2 separate regions of the Homo sapiens genome follow, and region 1 is linked to region 2. The links come from fine-mapping of genetic effects on gene expression. Tissue or cell type: testis. Region 2 holds a variant in brackets; the other region holds the start of a gene. All regions are shown on one strand. Distances are between the middles of the regions.

Evidence for each region. PIP is the estimated chance that this variant, and not a neighbour inherited with it, causes the effect.
Region 1: it holds the start of NELL1-AS1, and the variant in region 2 is the best candidate, but not a certain one, in a credible set for the expression of NELL1-AS1 in testis (GTEx, PIP 0.70).

The regions. Positions count from the first base shown.
Region 1 is chr11:21,261,360-21,264,289 of GRCh38, reverse strand. It overlaps NELL1-AS1 (NELL1 antisense RNA 1), which reads left to right and starts at 1,723. Exons shown (of 2, transcript NR_199070.1): 1 at 1,723-1,752. The region is part of intron 14 of NELL1 (neural EGFL like 1); the gene reads right to left.
Region 2 is chr11:21,308,841-21,311,770 of GRCh38, reverse strand. All of the region lies in intron 14 of NELL1 (neural EGFL like 1), which reads right to left. Among named protein-coding and RNA genes, the nearest start is that of NELL1-AS1, 48 kb to the right of the region's middle. The variant T/C (reference allele first, on the strand shown) is at 1,557.

The DNA of each region.
Region 1 (2,930 bases), 47 kb after region 2:
GAGATGCCAAAAAGATTAATAACTCAAAGTCAGCAGAAGATTCAATCTCGGTCTCTTCCTCCTAAGCCTGTGCTCTTTTTCCCTATATCATGCTGCTTTTCTTCTCCTGTGCTTTTATATGTCTCTAGGTGCTACATTCCCCCTCCCACCCCTATTCCTAAGGAGGGAAGGATGAGACAGACAGACACACAAACACACACACACACACACACACACACCCCATTGTAGACTTTCAGACATCTAACAGAGAAGCTGGTAATTAGGCAAAACAAAAAAATTCTCTATAAACAAGTTTCCAAATAAACATGGTTGGCTAAATGCACATAATTTCATCTGCTCCTTCTTGAAATTTCATTAAAGTTATATATTTAAGAGCTTTTTTTCCATTTTTTAAGGATTATATACCTATAAAGGCTGTGAGAATTGTAACTCAACAAAATTTTGAAAACTTAGAAGCAGATGAAGGAGTGATGACTGCTTTCTCAGATCTGAAAAAGCTGAATTCAAACACTCAGTGAGAAAAGCCAAGAAACAATTTGTTTTGCACCATGGGATTTAAGAGGCTCAGGAATTAACACCACCAGATACTTCTGACAATGGCAGCTAAATATAGGATGAAAGTCTCCTTAAAAACTAGGTATACACCTGGTTCCTCTTCCCATTCTGCCCAGTTAGATGACTGCCTCTCCACCAGCCTAGAAAAAGATGGGAGATTTATTTTCTGCACTATGGAACACCACACACAACTGAATGCAGATTCCATATTGAATACCGGGAAATCAGTGAAAGTGTATATGGCAATCAGAATGCTGAAAGATGGCTTTTATTGCCTGGGCAGGAATTTTGAAGAATATTTTCTAAGGAAACAAACAAACTAAAAATACTTAAATTGACAATCAGGTGTTTCCTGAGAGAATGAATGGCTCGCCGTTACCCCACATTGAATTTAATCATTAACAATCACATCTCCAGTTGCACAGAGCTTTCGATTAGTGTTTTATTGCAGAGCTCTTAAGTATGAGTGGAAAGCCGGGTTAAACATTTGAGGGAGGCTTCTAACATAAAAGACAAAAGCCACAGCAAATTTGTAGACAAACCCAAGAAGAAGGATGTGAGAACTCCATTAACAGAACACTTCATTATCACTATCCCTTGATTACTCACCATGATTAATGTCCTAAGAGTGAAAGGACACCATGTTCATGAAACAGAGTATGCTATGAGAAAACACAGGAAGAGAAAAAGCAGTCTTGAAACATAAAAGAGGACAACAGAAATGAAAAGGGTTACAAGATAAAGTGAACGAAGTCTCCAGATATTAGAAGAAAATGACAAATATATGTAAAATAAGAAGACAAGTATAAAAATTGAAAAATCAGAAAGTCCAGCATCAAAATAACAGGAAAGCTAGAAAAAGAAAGAGAAGACCAAGGAAAAAGGAGTAAGAGTACAGGAGAAGTCACCAAAGATATCATGTCAGAACATTTACAGACTTAAATGTTATGAATATCTAGATTGAAAAAGTCCACTGAGTGACCAACAGGATGAAGAAAATGTATACCAATATCATCATGAAATTTAAAACAATGGATTTCAAAACCAAAGATAAAAAGTCAGAATAGCATTGGGCTTCTCAAATTCCATACAGGAACCTAGGATACAATGGAACAATGCTTTCAGAATCCTGAGGAAGGAACAATGATTTACAAACAGAAATACAATACCTTTTCAAATTGCCAGTCAAGAGTGAAGGTATAATTATTTTTAAAATGTATATGTTTTGTTTGCCATGTGCCAGATAGTTTTCTTAGCAATTTGTAAATATTAACTCACTTCATAAGACAGTTATCAGAGCAGAAATTTCTCAAAACCTCATCTCCCATGTAGTCTTTCTCAGGTAATTAATGGAGAACCAAGCCAGAGCGGTCAACTAAGAAAAGTAAGCACAGTACATAGGAACGGGGCTCTCACCCGACAGAGAGGCAAAAAGGACCCCAGAGTCATGGTACAGATATATTCCCAGGACATTCACTACACAGTGAACCTGGAAATCAACCAAACTGTGGGGGAGATTTATTCCAGAACATAAAAGAGTTAATGTCTTAGAGGGTATTTATACAACTAGAGGGAGTTTGAGGATTAATTATGATAATACCATAGTAAACTAAATAATAAGATTAATAAATTAGATGATTCTTAATGACAAGAGGAACGAAGAGCTATGCAAGAAAGAAAATCAAGTATATTCCATGATTAGATTATCAATAGCACACGCACAATCGTAATAACATAAACGATACTAACCTAACGAGAAGATATGTGGAGAGGTGTGTAAAAAAATGAAAACTTAAAAATATCACAAAGTAGCAAAGAAATGTGCTATTTAAAGATCTGAACGAAAACACCAATTGAATCTGTTAAAAGCATTGAAAGTGGTTGCCTCTAGGGATAGGAAATAGGGAACTGTTTCCAAGGGATTAATCTTCCCTATAAAACTTTCTAGAACTGTTTAGTTCTTTAAACTACATGTATGTAGAGACTTGAAATTACAAAATAATTTCTCAGTGTTCATAAACAGATTTTTCCTTTGAGGCAGTACTGCATAAAGGTTAAAAATTAGCAGATTGCTTGGGTTTAATCCTGGCTCTTTCATTAATAGCTACTTGACCTTGGGCAAATTCTTTAATCGCTCTCTGCCTCTGTTTCCTCTTGTGTAAATGCAGGTAGGTAATAGTATCTTCCTCACAGAGTTTTGTGAGGGCTAAATATATGCAATTTGAACAGTGCCTAGCTCAACATGAAGTTTATGATCATAATTAGTCGTACAAATGGAATATTTGAGGGTATTTTAGGTCCATCTAAATAATAAAAGAAATAAAACTAAAGCAACAGGACATGTAGAGGGGAACAACACACTGGAGCCTTTCAAA
Region 2 (2,930 bases):
GAGACAATATGTAAAGTAGCTGGCACATATAGTAGGTGCTCAATAAATGCTAGCTGATATTTTCATGGGCATTAGAAGAAATTATTTGACCTCTTTTTATGAAAATGTTCAGCATTATCCATTATGAAGGATAGGTTCAACATGCTCTAGAGACAGTCCCAATTCTTGCATTAAAAGTTAATTGAGGCATTAATAGTCACACTTTATTTTAGAGGTTCTTAAACAGGATCCCGGCTACACAGTGGCAGGTTGTTAATATTTGTGTAAAAAGAGATAAAAATTATGTATTTGATTTTATGCAAATATAAAAAAGCAGTTCCCAAAATACATATGCCTTCAAAGCCCCAAATATACGTATGTAAACAAGAAGGACAAATTGGGCAAAATAATGCACTTATTTTCCCAGGCATGTGAAATACACACTTTAGTAAAAAGGTAATTAAACCTACCTATCAGTACAGAGTAACAAAATAATCGCCTTAAAGACATATATTCCACACAGATTTATGCTGTCTTTCTGTTCTAATATAATTTTATAACATTTAGTTTACAAAAATTGACTAAAGAGATATTTAGTATATTGCTTTGCAATGCAACATTTAATTTTATAGCATGGGTAATGCATTTCTTTTTACAAATGTATCAGTTTCCTGACAGCATCAATAAGCTGCTTCAGAGTCATTAAACACTATGAGAAGCCAGTAAAGCTACAGATTTTGTTACTGAAACGCACAGATTAATTTTCAGCTCATAAAGCCAGTACATGGGTTACTTGCTTGGTGTCTGCTGCCCATATACCGAAGCTTGAAAAGAAAGCTCAGTCAACTTGAATGACAGATTATATTCAAATTAAAACCTTTCAATGAATTCTCAGCACCCATCAGATACAGATGAATATATCTAACATGCACTCAGGTCTCTGCAGGATCTAGCCCACATTACCTTCTGAGACTTCTCCCCTTCCACTCCAACATGGAAAGTTCCTCCCATCTCTGAACCTGCATAGCATCAACAAGCTGATTCCATTCTATACATAGCCTATAACAACATTTTCTGCTTGGACACCATCTTTCCAAATCGCATCCTGTGTTAGATTTCTATAATGCAACATCAACCTCACAGATGATCAAAAGGAATGTCAGCAAATTTTGATACCTTCTTAGTTCAACCTGTGATTTCCTCATGATGGCCTTCCTTGACCCAGGAGCTAGGTCAAGTTTATAATCATACACTCAATATTACTTCACAGTATGTACCACAATTGTCCTATTATGTGAAATGATACATCTTCTGACTAGATTACCAATATTAGGAGGACCGAAACCATGTTTGTTTTTGCTTTACATTGCCAACCATGATGCTTGACACATAGCAGCCACTCAGTGAATATTTGCTGAGTGAAATTTATATTACTCCTTGCATAGCACTAAATGTCAAGGTAATACCGTAATTATCAGCATGTCTGGATATTAATCACAGTGATAGTCAATGTTAGTATTATTTATTAGGATTGATGTAAAAGAAAGCACACATGTTTCAGGGCCAGGTAGATCTGG[T/C]TTCAAATCTGAGTTCTGCCACATACTAGTTCTACATAGGCTTAACAAGTAAATAGTTATTTTGAACCTCATTCTTCTTATCTATTATTTTAAATTAAATAGCTGTTTTCTCATATAGTTCTTTTGAGGTTAAAAAATAATTCATCTAATGTACTTATCAGAACTCCCTACATATTCTATTAAGTAGAAATGCCTTTATGTGAAGACTAAGAAGTTGTATCTGCCATGCCTATCCTATCTAAAATAAACTACATCATTAAGATCATAAGTCTTATGGTTTAGCTGTGTCCCCACCAAAATCTCACCTTGAATTGTAACTCCCACAATTCCCACATCATGGGAGGAACCCAGGGGGAGGTGACTGAATTAATGGGGTGCGTCTTTCCTGCACTGTTCTCATGATAGTGAATGAGTCTCACAAGATCTGATGGTTTCAAAACTGGGACTTTCCCTGTACAAGCTCTCTCTTTGCCTGACGCCATCCATATAAGACGTGACTTACTCCTCCTTGCCTTCTGCCGTGATTGTGAGGCCTCCCCAGCCATGTGGAACTGTAACTCCATTAAGCCTCTTTTCCTTCCCAGTCTCAGGTATGTCTTTATCAGTAGCATGAAAATGGACTAATACAATAAGCAACATTAGAATACCGACTGGAATGAAGAATAAGTTAGTATTTGTAAAGTGAAAGATTAAAAATAACTTACAATTTCTAAAAGTTCCCATCCACTCATTCAATTTGGAAGGGGTAAGGTAAACTCATTTTAAGGAATATTTGTTTTCACATCATTTCTTATTGTGGAAGTAGAGTTTGAATAATAAAAAGCAGGAAAGTCAAGCATTTTAAAAATCATTCTAAGAAATGATAGAAAGTTTATTCATATTCAGGAAATATATATATATATTATATATATATACATATATATATATATATATACATATATATATATATATATACATATATATATTTAGAGTGGGTTTTTTTAATAGGCTTTAAGAGGCATACATAGAGTAATAAAACCAGCTTTGGAGTTTGACCTGAATCAAACTGCTTGTTATGTGACCTTAATAACATTAACTTTCTCTGTCCAGCTGATTCTTTAATAAAATAGGGACAATACCCTTACTATACAAAATAAATGTAAAACTTAAATGAAAGCATATGCTAAATGTCTAAAATGATGTCTGGCTCAAATAAGTGTTTCCCAAAAATGATAACTACTTGGGTTTAGCTGAAAGTTAACACCACCCAGGAACTTTGCTTTTTTTTCAAGGCATTTTAGAGCCTTCTTGCTCCTAAACTCTTTTCCTTTTGATAAAATTCCTATAATGTAATAGCAACCCCATGGGATGATCAAAAGGAACATGTTTGACATA